2 separate regions of the Homo sapiens genome follow, and region 2 is linked to region 1. The links come from fine-mapping of genetic effects on gene expression. Tissue or cell type: whole blood. Region 1 holds a variant in brackets; the other region holds the start of a gene. All regions are shown on one strand. Distances are between the middles of the regions.

What was found. PIP is the estimated chance that this variant, and not a neighbour inherited with it, causes the effect.
Region 2: it holds the start of NELFCD, and the variant in region 1 is fine-mapped to the expression of NELFCD in whole blood (TOPMed, PIP above 0.99).

The regions. Positions count from the first base shown.
Region 1 is chr20:59,005,096-59,013,195 of GRCh38, forward strand. It overlaps CTSZ (cathepsin Z), which reads right to left and starts at 2,159. Exons shown (of 6, transcript NM_001336.4): 1 at 1,891-2,159; 2 at 1,227-1,390. The coding sequence starts at 2,033. RefSeq lists enhancers at 1-262, 1,411-2,222, 2,903-3,062, 3,083-3,192, 3,333-3,412 and a silencer at 1,843-2,442. The variant C/T (reference allele first, on the strand shown) is at 4,236.
Region 2 is chr20:58,978,133-58,986,234 of GRCh38, forward strand. It overlaps NELFCD (negative elongation factor complex member C/D), which reads left to right and starts at 3,124. Exons shown (of 15, transcript NM_198976.4): 1 at 3,124-3,237; 2 at 7,961-8,076. The coding sequence starts at 3,178. RefSeq lists a silencer at 2,980-3,459 and an enhancer at 3,382-3,882.

The DNA of each region.
Region 1 (8,100 bases):
CCCAGTCCTCTGCCTCTAGCCCCACCCACACCCTGCAGCCCGCCCAAGGTCTCCCAGACCTTCCAGCTCCATCCACATCAAAGGGACCTTTGAACGATCAGAAGTGTGTTCCAGCCCCCGGGGGAGACGCCACGGATGCCACAGCTTCAGCTGGCTGGCTCTGGGGTCCAGACCCTACCCCCAGAGCAAGAACCCCTCATTCACAAGACTGAGCCCATCAGACATCCTGGCACAAAGCCCAGGCTTCCGGGCTCAAATCTCAGCTGTCACTCACACTATGCTCAAGCCTCCCCATCTCTCTGCAAAAAGCCTGCTTCCTCATCTGCAAACTGGAAGCAATCATGGCATTGAGGAGGCGTCAGTGAGATGGAGCACACGCAAACGCATGTCCCCCAGCCTTGGCCCACAGCGGCAGCCACACTGTAGTCTATCCTTTTCACATGGGTGTACAGCAGGCCTGACCCATGAGGACCAAGGCCAGGGAAGAGGCAACAGCACCACAGTGCTCATGGGCCAAACTCCCAGGCCACGCAAGTCCCATCTCCAGGGGAAATCCAGGCTCCTGGACCCTGTGCTGTGACTGGAGAGGGGATAGCAGAGTCCCTTCCAAATGCTGTGGGGTGGGCCTGGGGCTGGTTTGCAGCTGTCCCTTCTCCCGCCTTCTCTCCCAAAGCAGGGTGCAGCAGCCTCGTTGATAGGGAGGGCCTTAGTTTCCCCTTCCTCTTTGCTAAGAGCCTCCCTACCCTACTCCTGCCAAAAGCCTAAGATAGAAACCCACCAGGCTGGAGGTAGTGACCAGGTTAGGCCATGGGCTGTAGCCAACTAGCCTCACCCAATATTCCAAGCCCAGGACAGGCTTTCATCTGTGCTGAGAAGCAGTTTACTTCTGTATCCTCAAATACAGCCTGGGGACTCAGTGATTTTGCATTTCTGTTTCTATCCCAATGGCTGAGGTCACAAGCTTTGGGGGAGAGAGGGCACCTGGCAGCCACTTGTCACTGGGATTCAGTCCTAGTCCTGCCTGTCACCCAAAAGCCCCAGAATGACCCAGCTTGGGTCACCTCAGCAGAGGGCAAAGGCCCGCGCTCCTCGGCCTTAGCACCCCAGCCCAGGCTGACCTGGCCTTGAATCACAGGCCCCTGGAACCGCGGGCTGAGCTGCCTGGGCCTATAAACAGGCAGCCGGGATGGGCTTTCCTGGCCCACAGTCAAAGGGCGGCCACTCACCCGCCATAGCGCTGGTGCTGGCGTGGGCCCAGCAGGAGCCGCAGTATTGGGGGATGTGCTGGTTCCGGGTGATGCTGGCATAGTTGACACCATCCACATTGCGCCAGTCCCAGCTCTTGGGCAGATCCGCTGGGGACAGGTACTCATGAGGCCGGGGGTATGTGCTGAGAAGAGATCATCCCCACCCAGATCGGTGCTGGGGCTCCCGGGGGCCGTGGGCCCAGGAAGCCCTCGGTAGGGCCCTCCCGCCTTTCCCAACACCTGAGGGCATGGGAGTGGGGCCACAATCACCAGAGGTGAGCCAGGTGTGGGCCCACCTCACACTAGGAGGCTCCAGCGCTCTCAGAATGTGAAGGAGGCAGGGCACCCCCGAAAGGAGGGAACCGGGTTGCTCCCCCAGCCATGCCGCGCCGTAAGGGCCACCCCCAGAGGCCGAGGAGGTGGGGCTGGCCTGGCTTTCTGGCCAGGTGGGGCTTGTCCAACCCCACAAACATCAGGGCTCACCCTGGATGTGGAAGAGAAGGAGCGACCCCCAAAACGAAGCGGCTGGATCTGACCTTCCAAGGCCTGTTGGCGACGCAGGGCCCCCAGGAGGCAGAGCGCGCGCCTGGCCCGGGCGATGGGCCTCCCGTCCCCCCAGGGCTGCCTCCCCGCCGGTGCCCACCTGCGCCCCAGCGGAGCCAGCCCGTCCCCCCGCAGAGGCCGGTAGCAGGTCTGTCCCCGGCGGAAGTAGAGGCCGCCCTGCGCCGCGCCCGCCAGCAGCACGAGCAGCAGAAGCGGCCGCCACCCTGGCCCGCGCCTCGCCATGGCCCCGCGCCGGCTCCTGGGTCCCGCTCCGGATCCCGCTCCGAGTCCCAGATCCCGCGCCGGCTCCCGCTCTGGATCCCGCCCCGGCCTCGGCCTCGGCCCAGCACCCGGCCGACCCCGCACTTTGGGCCCCTGCCCCGCCCGGCCCTTAAGGCTGCGGCGGCCAGGCCGGGACACTCCCCCGGGGCGGGGCTGTCCCATCGCTGCTCCTGCCCCGCCCGGTGACCCCTGCCCTCCCCGCCCGGCTCCGCGCCCCGCTCCCTCCCTGGCTCCGGGGCACCTGAACTCGCGGGCCAGGCGCGAGGTCGCCGGGCAGACCCCAGCCTGACCCCGCCGCCGGCCGCCGCCCTGAGCGCGGGACTGTCCGGCTGGACTCATTTGCCGGGGTTCCTGGCTTCGGGGTGGGGGGCCGCAGGCTCATGGGCCCCCTTGGCCCTGCATTCCTGGGGCCCTGAGCCCTGGGGAGAGGCCCCCAGCCTCACATCTGGGCCCAGGCCTCCCCTAGGAAGGGATCCTGGGATGCGGCCACCGCCCCCAAAGAAGGGTCCCCGCGCCTGGCTTTCTAAACCCCTTTTCCCAAAGGCCCAGGCCCTTTCGGGGGGACGGTTCCCTTTTGCAGAGAAGGAAGGAGGGATCCTTCTAGAAAATGCCCCAAAGGAAGATTCCACTTGGCGCAGGCATCAGGAGTTATCCAATGTGACTTCCAAAGACGCCTTGAAAAGGTTTTCTGCTAACGAAACTCTTCTTAGTCAAATGAGGAACCAAAAGCAGAAGTGGCCCCCCAGGACGTGGTTTTGTAACTGGGGGAGGGCTTCTCGCTCCCTGCGGCCCCTCTGTTTGTCATGGCCCTTGGGCCCACACCATGGCCTTCTTCTCTGGTAAGAACAGGGCCCGGCATTCTGGGCTGCGACCTGACAGGCCCCTGCTGGGGGCCCTTGGCACAGGGCCCACAGATGAGCTTGCCTGACTCTCTCCATACTCAGTGGCACTCACCACATTCCAAGCGTGCCACGTGGGCAAGGGGAAGTCACAGTGGCTGCCTCCTGACTTCCAGAAGCTTCCATGACCATTCCCGGAAGCGCTGAGGTGGCCATGGAATCCCCGCATGACTGTCCGAGTGGAGAGCAAGGCTGGAGAGCTGCTTCGTCAGCCCAGAAGTTTCAGTCCTTGTTCCCCAAAAAGTGGTCACTGAGGCAAAGTGTGGCCCCGGGGCTCTACCTACTGATGTGTCTCTTATTTGTTTGGCAAGTCGCTCATGGAAACCATTAGTGTCCATCAGTCATCAGAAGGCGGGGTGGGGTGGCCATCCTGGGAGAAGTCCCCAAGCTTGAGCTGGCGGTGGGGGTGGGAGCGAGGCCTCCCAACCTCTGGGCATAAAAGGAGTGGAAAGAGAATTGCCAAGAGGGGGCCTTTCTTCCTCCCATGTCAACCCTCTGGCCTCCCTGACTATAGGAGCTGGGTCCTTGTGAGGAAGAAACCCAGACACAGCTGCCCTTGCCAGGTCATCAGGTGGCATCTACCAAAGCGGCCGGTTTTTGGCTTCTTCTAAAGAAAAAGCTAAGAACTCACAAAATTGTGTGGTAAGAGATATCGTGCCCCTCCCTCCAGGTACCCATAGTTATGATCCAGGTACTGTGAAGTCCAACAGCACATTCTACAGCATGAGAAACAAGCCTGGAGAGGGGAGGGCCCCTTGTGCTTGGCCTCTGATGCCTGAGCTGTGATGTCCTGGGCCCTGGTCCCTGAATCTGGGTGAAAAGGCACCCAAGGTGTAAGCTTTTCTTTCCTGTAGCATGGGGAGAGCTGGGGTGCTCTGAAGATGCCCCGAGACTCTCCGAGCAGGTCCAGCGCATGTAGAAGGTATGACAGGCATGGTCAGCAAGGCAGGCACACGACCCCTGCAGTCACATGAGGCCCTAAGTCCAGAAGTGTAATGCAGAGCTGAACGAGGGGCTCTCCAGGTTCACTGTGCCCTGGGCCCTGCAAATTATGTAGCTGGGTCTGATGACAGCAACCACACCTGCTCCATCACAAGTCCTGTACATCACCCGCTTTCAGCCCAGAGCCTCTGGCAAATCAAACTCACAAACAGGGGTCAGGAGGAGGGGTGAGATGGTCAGGAAGGGGAATAAACATTCACAGTCCTGCTCCCAAATGCTGGCACAAAGCTTAATTTATCTGGGGAGTTCCAAAGAGGAGACT[C/T]TCCGGATTTACCCTATTGAAAGTTGGTTAAAGGGAAGGATATTTTTAGGCTGGTAACAAAAAGGACGTCCAAAGTTGACAACTTGTGCCCCCTGGGTTTCCCTAACATAGAAGCAATTCAAGATCAGAATCTGATGGAATAGGGCAGGAAGAGAGGGAGGGAGCCTATCCATTTGAAATCATCATTTACTTTTTCTTTTCTTTTTTTTTTTTTGGAGACAGAGTCTCGCTCTGTCACCTGGGCTGGAGTGCAATGGAGCAATATCGGCTCACTGCAACCTCCACCTCCTGGGTTCACGCAATTCTCCTGCCTCAGCCTCCTGAGTAGCTGGGATTACAGGCACACACCATCACACCTGGCTAAGTTTTTGTATTTTTAGTAGAGATAGGGTTTCACTACGTTGGCCAGACTGGTCTCGAGCTTCTGACCCCGTGATCCTGCCGCCTCGGCCTCCCAAAGTGCTGGGATTACAGGTGTGAGCCACCGCGCCTGGTCTGAAATCATCATTTTCAAGCCAAGAAGGAAGGAAGGGGGCCTGATGAGACTTATCTCTCCAGCCTCTTCTCATGGGTCCAACACAGCAAACCACGCAGAGACAGGGCTCCTCATCTCTGAACCTGGCCCTAGTCGAGTGGATGCATGTCTGGCTGCCAGACTGCTCCGAGAAGCTGGCGGGCTGTGTCATTTTGGGGGTTACTAAAATCGTGCAGCAGAGGATCCTAAATAGGATTTTTGGTTTTCTTGGTTTTGGGGTTTTTGTTGGTTGTTTTTGTTTTTCCCTTAACTCGATGCAAGATCTTAAACATGTTCCTTGTGGGGGCGGGGTTGGGGATGGCCACAAACCCACCCAAACTCAAATTCCAGTGCTGCTATTAGTGAAGGATGTTTAGCTGGAGGAGTTCTCTGAAGGGCACACAGATAAAACCAGGAGGTGTCTGGGACTGGAAAAAGAGGAGGGAGCACATTGGGAACCTGATAGACAGGCCACCCCAGCCATTTCTTGCTGGGGACTGCTTGCTGGGGGTTGAGTTTAGCCCCAGAGCTGTGTCTCTCTCTTCAAAGCAGACTCACCTGCAGAGCAGCTTGGGGACTCTTGGAAACCGGAAAGGTGTTTCCTCCTGACTTGGCTGCAGGTGCCTGCAAGGTGGTTTTGTGGATACTGACTCTTCTTCTCATCTGGGCCGGGATCCGAAGAGGCTTGGGGCAGGGCACTTGGACCTTCCTACCTCTGAGGCCCTACTTGCCTAAGCATTGCTTCTAGCAGCTCTTTATAAGCAGCTGTGTGCCACCGCCTTCCAGCTTGGGGCAGAATTGAGTAGGTATTTAGAGCAAGGCGTCTCCCCTGAAACCACTTTGCCTGGAAAGCTTGGCACCTATCCTGGGTTTTCCTTCCTGGAGGTAATGGAGTCATTCCTGCTCCCAGTGGTGCTTGAGGGCAGAGGGCTGAGCCAATGACATTCTAGAGGACTGTGCAGCCGCATTTGATCCTTTGCACAATGCTGTGAGGTGGGGGTGGGGGTTGGGAGGCAGATGCTATTACTCCATTCTACTGGCGAAAAGACTGAGCCTCTGGAGATGTCAGGTGACCTGTGCTCAGCACGAGGCTCCTGGGTGGCAGGTTCCAATCCAGTCCCTTTTTTTTTTTTTTTTTTTAACCCCATGAATTCTCCTGGAAAACACATGATCCAAGGCCACAGACACAAAAGCCTATTCATTTCTAAAAATAAGGCTGATTTTTCTCCTCATTCTGATAAAGATCAGCACTCAGGCCACGGCTGGCCCACCTTCCCAACCTGGAGGAGGAGAACACAGATGAGTTTTCATCGACTGTGGAATGGCCTCGAAATCCTTTTTCTTCTTCCTTTGTGCCATATTGTCTGGCTTCCACCCCGGCAAGCTGCAGACATTTCCTATTATTCCACATTCCTGAGTTTAGCCACATCCTGGATACCGGCATTTGTTTGGGTGGATGCCGACAATGCTCGCTAGGCTAGGCTGGTTTTGCAGGGCACGACGGTTCCCTCACCAGCTACAGGAGTTCCTCTTGATCCACTTGGTCAACGGGTCAGAGGCACTCGCTAACACCCAGATATCTCTGCAGTGCAGGCCTTCAGATAGGGCGGGCCAGGTTTGCAATCCACCATGCCACTGTCCCCAAGCACCACCATGCATCACATCCTGGCCTGGTTGTGTTATGGGAAAGGGGATCCCAACCCAGATCCCAAGAGAGGGTTCTTGGACCTCACGCAAGAAGGAATTCGGGGAAAGTCCATAAAGTGAAAGCAAGTTTATTAAGAAAGCAAAGGAATAAAAGAATAGCTCCTCCACAGGCAGAGCGGCAGCACGGGGTGCTCAGCTATTTATAGTTACTGTTACTTCTTCATTATACACTGAACAAGGAGTGGATCATTCATGAGTTTTTTGGAAAGGGGTGGGCAATTCCAGGAACTGAGGGTTCCCCCGCTTTGTAGACCATACAGGGTAACTTCCTGATGCTGCTGTGGCATCTGTAAACTGTCATGGTGCTGGTAGGAGTGTCTCTTAGCATGCTAATGCATTATAATTATCATATAATCAGCACTGAGGACAACCAGAGGTCACTTTCATCGCCATCTTGGGTTTGGTGGGTTTTGGCTGCCTTCTTTATCACATCCTTTTATCAGCAAGGTTTTTTGTTTGTTTTTGTTTTTTGAGACAGAGTTTCGCTCTTGTTACCCAGGCTGGAGGGCAATGGCACAATCTTGGCTCACTGCAACCTCTGCCTCTTGGGGTCAAGTGATTCTCCTGCCTTAGCCTCCCGAGTAGCTGGGATTACAGGTGCCTGCCACCATGCGTGGCTACTTTTTTGGCTTTTTTTAGTAGAGACGGGGTTTCACCATGTTGGCCAGGCTGGTCTTGAACTCCTGACCTCAGGCGATCCACCCGCCTCAGCCTCCCAAAGTGCTAGTATTACAGGCCTGAGCCACCGTGCCTGGCCTATTGGCAAGGTCTTGGTGACCTGTACCTTGTGCCGACCTCCTATCTCATCCTGTGATGTAGAATGTCTAACCTCCAAGGAATGCAGCCCAGGAGGTCTCAGCCTTATTTTACCCAGTCTGTATTCAAGATGGAGTCGCTCTGGTTCAAACGCCTCTGACAGTTGCACAGTGACTGGTGGTGCACACTTGCTTGGGAGTGGATGTGGCTCCTTGGGCTGACATTGATGAAGGCAGCCTCATCAGTATCACCTTTGGGACACACCCTGTGCAGCACAGCATGTAACAGACACAGCCCACCCATGAACTCACCAGGAAGTCTTTCAAAGGGGCACTCAATGACTACCCGATTGAATTTGTTTGCCCTCTAAAGTTAGGCTGTCAGCAAATATTTGTTGAGCACCTAGTACGTGCAGGCTACTGTTTTCTTCCCCGGGGATTCGGCAGTGAACAAAGTCCCTGTCTGCAAGGACTTATGTTTTCTGCATAAGGGAACATGTGGAAAAGTAAAATGCTCAGGAGGTAGGAAGTGCTTGCAAACAGTTAAAACGGGGAACAGGAGAGACGGAGGGTCTCTGGAGAAGTTTGGTCTGGGACCATTCTTTTAGGTATCCAGTGAGTTGGGATTGAATAATGACAGTCATGGAAGGTGCTGGAAGGAGACTCAGCAGAAGGAAGAGTGTCTGCAGAGGCCTGAGAATGTGAGTGCACTGGGTAAGTGTGTGATGCACTGGGGAAAGCCCTTGGGGAGGCTGCGGACAGGTGGGCTCAGCCTCCAAGCTGCAGGGACCATGCGGGCACTCAGGCCAGCTTCACACGGCCAGCCCACCTCTCCCCTTCCCTCCCCTTTCTGCCATCTGACAGAGGCTCTGCTGGCCTCCTTCATCCC
Region 2 (8,102 bases), 27 kb before region 1:
CATACATTAATTGGTCCGCTTTCAATTCTGGCACTATTTTTTAAAAAATCTAAGAGGAGAGGTAGGAGGAGTTTAACAGCCATCTATTCTTTCCAACATTTTGAGAAAGCAAGTGAAAATGAACCCTGAAACAAGCCAACAGCAGGGGCACTCATTAACTTAATACACTTTAATCTTGTGAATAGAAGCTGGAGCTGGATCCTTTGAATCGGAGCTGCAGACTTCCACCTCCAACCACCTGCAGGACATCTCCGCATGGGTGTTCTGTTGGCACCTCTAACTCAGCACAACCCAATGAACTCATTATCATCCCATGGAGAAACCTGCCCTCCTCCTGGGTTCCCTGTCTCAGCCATGGGCCATCCCCAGGCACACAAGCTGGGGGTCACAGCAGCATCTTCCCTGCCCCTGTTCCTGGCCCCCATCTCCCACCCCCAAGGCTGTTGTATCCTCTGGACTTGACCCCAACTTCACAGCAGTTAGCCACAGCTCCTTCTCAGCAACCCCCTCCATTAATGCTCACGGAAGCTTCTTAATTTACATTCTCACCTTCTCACTTCCTTCTGTAAGGCCCCCTCAGCTAGGAGAAATGCCTTTGAAAATTCAGATATGTCCTTTCACCCGCTCAGAGCAAGAAAAAAAAAATCCAAACGTTTCATCTTCCTCATAATGATGCATACTTGCTGAGCACCTACCATGTGCAAGCTCTCTGCTCAGTGCTTGGCATACCTCATTACATTCAATCCTTAGAGATGGCCCTCAGTTAATACAGACCTAACTCCCTCCCAAGATCTGGCCCTCCCTGCCTTGCCCACCTCATCTAGATTTCTCCTTGGCCTGCCAGGTGCCGCTCTCAGTGGCCTTTCTGTTCCAAGTACGCATGCCTGGCCTTTGCCCTGGCAGTTCTGCTCTCTGGAAATGCTCTTGCCTGGGTCTTAGCTAGCTTGCCCCTTTCATGACATGACTCAGTTCAAATGTAAGCTGCTCAGCAGCCATCTCTGATCTCCCCAAGAAGATTCTATTATCACAGAATACTAGCACTGATCACCTTCTGTCTTTATCTTATTTGTTCCCCCCACCCCCTCCCCCCATTCAGCTCCTTCAGTAGAATGTAGGCTCTACCCGGACAAGGATCAGGTCCAACTTGTTCACCGAGCTCCAGGGAGCAGCGCAGTGCTGGGCACTTAGGGAACACTCAATAAACATTTGTTGAATAAATGAAGACATATTCCCTGATAAGTTCTCCAAAAGTAGTCACTATTATCAATCTTCTGGAGCTCTTTTCTCTAATACTCTTTCCTTACTGACATGGGCATTACCTTTCTTTTTTTTCTTTATAGACAGGGTCTCACTTTGTCACACAGGCTGAAATGCAATGGCACGACCATAGCAAACTGTAACCTCAAACTCCTGGGCTGAAGCAATCCTCCTGCCTCAGCCTCCCGAGCAGCTAGGACTACAGGCGTGCATCACCATACCTGGCTGGGGGCGGGGGAAGGGGGGGGGCGGTGTCTCGCTATGTTGCCCAGGTTGGTCTCAAACTCTTGCCTCAAGCAATCCTCCCACCTTGGCCTCCCAAAGTGCTGGGATTACAGGTGTGAGCCGCGGCGCTCAGCCACGGGCGTTACCTTTCAAAGCATCCAGATTTTATGGCGTTAATCTCCCTGTTTAAAATTTTCTGTGATTTGGACACAAAGATGGGAACAACAGACATGGGGTATTCCAAAAGGCAGAAGGTGTGGAGGGGGGTAAAGGCTGAAAAAGTTGCCGAAAGGATTAGAAGCATCACGCAATATACCAATGTAACAAACCTGCACACGCACCGAATCTAAAATTAAAACAAAACAAAAACACAACAACCAAACAAAAACCTTTCCGTGATCATCAGGAGGCTGTCATATTCTCACCCCCTACTTCACGCTGGGAATCGAGCTGCGGGCTTTACAACAGCGTCAGCTGCTCCCTTTGGCAACGACCAGAGAGGTCCTTTCTCCAGAGATTTTTGTCAGCTCTGGGCACTTTTGCTTTGTGGGCCTATCTTCCACTTTATAAAAAATTAAAAATGCTACTTTCCACTGCATTCAGTACTTTTTCTTCTCTTTTCTTTTTTCTTTTCTTTTCTTTCTTTCTTCTTTCTTTCTTTTTCTTTTTCTTTTTTTTTTTTTTTTTGACACAGTTTCACTCTGTTGCCTAGGCTGGAGTGCGGTGGTGTGATCTTGGCTCACTGCAACCTCCACCTCCTGGGTTCAAGCGGTTCTCGTGACTCAGCCTCTTGAGTAGCTGAGACTACAGGCGCCCGCCACCATGCCCAGCTAATTTTTGTGTTATTAGTAGAGAAGGGGTTTTACCATGTTGACCAGGCTGGTCTCGAACTCCTGACCTCAGGTGATCCGCCCGCCTCGGCCTCCCAAAGTGTTGGGATTACAGGCGTGAGCCACCGTGCCCTGCCCTTTTTATGTATGTATTTATTTATTTGAGATAGGGTCTCGCTCTGTCGCTCAGGCTGGAGTGCAATGGTGCGATCTTGGCTCACTGCAACCTCCGCCTCCCGGGTTCAAGCGATTCTCCTGCCTCAGTCACCCGAGTACCTGGGATTACAGGCGCATGCCACCACGCCCGGCTAATTTTTGTATTTTGAGCAGAGACGGGGTTTCACCATGTTGGCCAGACTGGCCTCGAACTCCTGACCTCAAGTGATCCGTCAGCCTCGGTCTCCCAAAGTGCTGGGATTACAGGCGTGAGCCCCCACGCCCGGTCGCGTTTAGTACTTTTTACCAAAACTAAAAGAAATTAAAACACTTTCGTGGGTCCTGGACACTTCCGGAAGGATTTGTTTCCAGCTGCCAGATGAGGAAACTGGGGCTCGCAGAGCCGGCGCCGCAGGGGAGGGGCTGTGCACGAATCCAGTGGGAAACCTCTCTCCGGAGCTAAGCCCCTGGTCCACCCGGGCATCGCTCCGGGATCGACTGGGGGCGTTCCTTCCGCCGGTCCCCTTTGTTCCCAGTGCCGAGCCCGCGGCCCTGCCCTTCCTCCAGGCCCCGCCCCTTCTTCCAGGCCCCGCCTCCCGCCCGGGCCGAGGCGCGCGGCCGCGCGTGCGCCCGCCCGCCCGTCCCCGCCTCGCGCATGCGCCGCGCTCGCTCGCGGGAGGGCATGGCGGGGGCCGTGCCGGGCGCCATCATGGACGAGGACTACTACGGGAGCGCGGCCGAGTGGGGCGACGAGGCTGACGGCGGCCAGGTGAGGCGGGGCACTGGGCGCACCCTAGAGAGAATCGTTCGTCTCCGCCGCCGGCGGGCCGGCCCCACTCCCGGAGAGGCCGCGCGGCGCGAGGCTGCGGGCGTGCGGGGGGTGTGCGCGCGCACGGCCCGCGCGGTCACCGTGTGGTTCAAGCACAGCCCGCCCCGCCCCCGCCCGCCCGGGGTCCCGCGGCGCGGCCGCCGGGGTCCCCGCCTCCTCGCCTGCAGGACCTTGGGGTGGGGGTGAGGCGCCGGAGGCTCTGGCGCGGGGCGGCCCGAGGCCCCCAGTACCCCCTCGCTCCGGCCAGGCCCGGCGCCGGCCCTGCGACCCCCGCGGCGGGCGGGACACCAACGCTAAGGTGGAGGGTTGGGTCCGGAGCTCACAGACTTTTAAACAAAAATAAAGTGGAAAAACTTCACAGCAGCATCATGAGGAAAAAGTAGAACTTAGGGCATTCCTACATGTGCTTTACTGTTTTATAAACTGTACTCTTCAGCACCTTGGGCTGATTTCATCTGTTTTTGGGCAAACTGATGGAAAGGATTTTCGGGCCTTGACCTTCCAGGGTTTGGGGTGGAAGCCCAGGAGGGATCACTGTTCCACCCTGAGGACAGGGACTGCAGAGCCAGGGCAGGTAGCTCTAGTCTGGACAGTGTGTCCCCACCTTACTCTAAAGACCCAACTGAGGCGCATGATTGAAATGTAGCTTCTCACGTCCCTCCCCTGGAGACGGCCCAACAGTTGGTCTGGACGGGAGCCTGGGAACTTGCATTTTTTTTTTTTTTTTTTTTTTTTTTTTTTTTTGTGGTGGAGTTTCGCTCTTGTTGCCCAGGCTGGAGTGTAATGGCGCCATCGCGGCTCACTGCAACGTCTGCCTCTCGGATTCAAGCGATTCTCCTGCCTCAGCCTCCCGAATAGCTGGGATTACAGGCACCCACCACCATGCCCAGCTAATTTTTAAAATTTTGAGTAGAGAGGGGGTTTCACCTTGTTGGCCAGGCTGGTCTCAAACTCTTGACCTCAGGTGATCCACCCACCTCTGCCTCCCAAAGTACTGGGATTACAGGCGTGAGCCACTGCTCGTGGCCCAGGAACTTGCATTTTTAACAACAATCAAGATTGGGGATGTCTGGTGCATTTTGAAGTGGTATTATAAGGGAATAAAGGATGAAGTGGGGCTTACGTTGATAAACATGGGTGGTGGTGTGATGGCGGCTTCGGAGCCATGGTCTAAAATGCCAAGGCGGGCGATGTGTTTCTGGAACTGAAAGAAGCCCTGTGATGTTAGCTGCCTGGTGGAAGCAGTGGCAGGAGGTCAGTAGGGAGCAGGTTCTGAAGATCCTTGGAGAGCTGCTGAATGGTATGGCTTGTTCAGGAGTTTGGGGCAGGGAGTGACACGAGTAGATTTGCATGTTGGATCATTTCACAGTGTTGGAGGCTTAGGGTGGAGTGGATAGAGTCAGACTTAGCTAACTGAGAGCTTGGGCCATGTGTGTCATGCGTTATCCCCTTCCACACACAGGATTTTGAGTTGGGTGTTACCCTACTTATCTGGTAAGTGTAGAAAATGAGACGAAAAGACTTACTGACCTGCCCAAGGTCATGAAACTAATAAAGGAAGGAGAGGGGACCCAAACCCACATCCTTTGCCTCCGTTGCCACTTCGTCAAATTGCTGACTACCAAAGTGGTCCAGATGAGAAGGTGTGAATTAGCTTAGTGGTAGGTTGGTGTTTGGGGCATCTAGTATATCACCTTGAGCCTTTTTTTCTTTTTTTTTTTTTTTGAGACAGAGTCTCGCTTAGCTGCTCAGGCTGGAGTGCAGTGGCTTGATCTCAGCTCGCTGCAACTGCCATCTCCTGGGTTCAAGCAATTCTCCCGTCTCAGCCTCCTGAGTAGCTGGGATTACAGGCATCCGCCATCATGTCCGGCTAATTTTTGTATTTTAGTAGAGACAGTGTTTCACCACGTTGGCCAGGCTAGTCTTGAACTCCTGACCTCAGGTGATCCGCCTGCCCCGGCCTCCCAAAATGCTAGGATTACAGGCGTGAGCCACCGCACCCGGCCTTTTTTTTTTTTTTTTTTCTTTGAGACGGAGTCTCACTCTGTCACCCAGGCTGGAGTGCAGTGGTGCCATCTTGGCTCACTGCAACCTCCACCTCCTGGGTTCAAGTGATTCTCCAAGTAGCTGGAATTACAGGCCGGTGCCACCACACCCGGCTAATTTTTGTATTTTTAGTAGAGATGTGGTTTCACCATGTTGGCCAGGCTGGTCTCGAACTCCTGGCCTCAAGTAATCTGCCCGCCTCCGCCTCTCAAAGTGCTGAGATTACAGGTGTGAGCTACCGTGCCCGGCCTCACCTTGAGGCTTTGAGTCATAAAGTGTTAGAACTGGGGCATATAAGGGCCATCTAATCAGTACCTTCACTTTATAGACCAAGCACGTGAGTTATTTGCCCAAGTTTGTGCAGTCAGACCTAGACCCCACTGATGGGAGATTGGGGAGTCTCATGTTTGGGGAATTTTAATCATGATCCTAATTTGGCCCACTGACACCAGTGGGCTCTCATGGATGAGGGGGGTGGACCAGACGTTCATTTCATGTTTATTCTGTGACTCTGCTTGGAAGAGGTACAGAAAGTTAGGAAAGGTGTTAGGAGGGTGGCAAGAACTGGATTTTAAAAGATAGTTGGTGACCCAAATTCTGTTCGCCTGATGCCATGTTACATAGTGGGAGGTAGGAAGATGTGTAAGGAGGCCACCGTGATGTTCAGTCTGGATGGTGGAAACTAAGAGCTGCAGACATGCAAATAGATGAGTCCTGCTACAGATTGCAAATGGGGAGTGGTGAGAGGTCAGAACGGACAGGGGAAGTGGGAAGGGCACGCTCTTGCTAGAGCTGGGGCGTTTTTTCCTGAAGGAGATGGGAATCTTTAAGCAGGAGAGAGACGTCAGTTTTGTGGCTTACAAAGATCACTGTGGCCACGGTGTGAAAGATGATTGAAAGGAAGGAATAAGACTGAGACTTCAGGGGAATGTTGCTACTGCAAGCATACAAAAAATAAGGAAGAGCAGAGGCAAATGTGGAAAGAAGGACCACCTTGGATAGACAGATGGGAGATGGAACTGATGAGTCTTTGTGACAGGATGTGGGGGTGGGGTGAGGGAGAGAAGCTGAGGATGATTTTCAGGTTTGGGGGGTAACAAGTAGATATATGAAGGATACCTTTACGGAAATATGGGTTGTAGGAAGAAGATCTGTTTCTAGGGAAGAGATGTCAGTTTTGGACCTAAAGAGTTTGGATACTTGTGAGACATCTGACTGGAAATGAGAATGGAATGTTGGATACCTGAGTCTGGAGCTTAAGAGAGGAAAGACGGAGAGAGAGATCCAGGCTAATTCTAGATTGGTGAGCAGGTAGATAGCATGACCCAAGAGGTGGTGGAAGAGGCAGGTAGGTGAGTGCCCAGGGTGGAAGCCCAAGAGAACAGACAACGTGGGAATGAAGCTCGGGGTGAAGTCCGGCCTCTGTCATGCCCTTAGGGGCTCAGCGTTCCCCATGCAAATCTGGTCTGAGAGAAGACTCCACAGCTTTTACTGGGAAGTCATCGGGTTCTGTCTGCTCCCAAAGCACTGCTTTTAGGATCTTAGTCCAGATCAGGAGTGAGCAAACTTTTCTGAAAAAGGCTAGATAGCAAATATTTTAGGTTGTGCCTGTCTCTGTCTTAACTACTTACCTCTGCCCTTACAGGGGGAAAGCAATCATAGACAGTCCTTAAAAGAATGGGTGTGCTGTGTTCCGTAAAAGTTTATTTGCAAAAATAGGAGAGGGCTGGATTCGGCTCTGGGTCATAGTTTGCTGACCCCTGGCCCAGCTCTTGCCCCATTATGTTAGAGTAGGTTGCATGGAGGTCTGTCTCTCCTATTAGTTTGTGAACTTCTTTGATGGAAAAAGCCTTGTCTTGTCTTACATTTTCTTAGGTTCCTTGGTTGATGAGCATAGTGCAGACTGAATGTTCAAAAAGCATCTGCTTGTTAGTTAGGGTGGCAGTGTTAAAGTTGGACAGGGTTTGGGATCACAGTCCATCCTCACATGGTCATTAGCAGGTGAAGAAGCCTGCTTTGCCCTTAGATGGAGTGACAGGCCTGAAGTTGCTTCCACATAGAATTGGGACTGGAGTCCAGCCAGAAGTGTGGATGCAAGGCGAGTTAGTGGTCTTTACTTTCTAATGGTAAGTGATGGCTCACGCTTTCAAGAATCAGGTTGTTACTCTTCAGTGGCATGTATGAAATAAGAATAGTGAAAACAATAATAATAATAGTTTACTATTTATTGCACTGTTACGAAATGTCAGGGATTATGCTGGGTTCTTCCAAAAATTAGCTCATGGAATCCTCACAACAGCCAAATGGGAATAGGCGTTATTATTATCTTCACTTAACAGAGGAGGAAATGGACACTCAGAGAGGTTGGGTAACTTGTGTGAGCATGGAACGCGGTTTGCCAGGGAGGAGTTGTACACACCCACTCAGTGTGATCCTGGATCCCATTTTCCTAGCCACTCACTATCTGTCCAGCCCATTTCATGAAATTGTCATGAAAGTCAAATGAAATAATGTGTGTAGAATACTTTCAAAATGGGCAGCATTATACGATTTAAGGTGAGATTAGGGTATTTGTATTAATGAAAAAAATATCCTGGCTCTTCGCATTTACCAACAGCAGGAGGATGATTCTGGAGAAGGAGAGGATGATGCGGAGGTTCAGCAAGAATGCCTGCATAAATTTTCCACCCGGGATTATATCATGGAACCCTCCATCTTCAACACTCTGAAGAGGTATGTGAGAAAGGTGTCTGTATTGG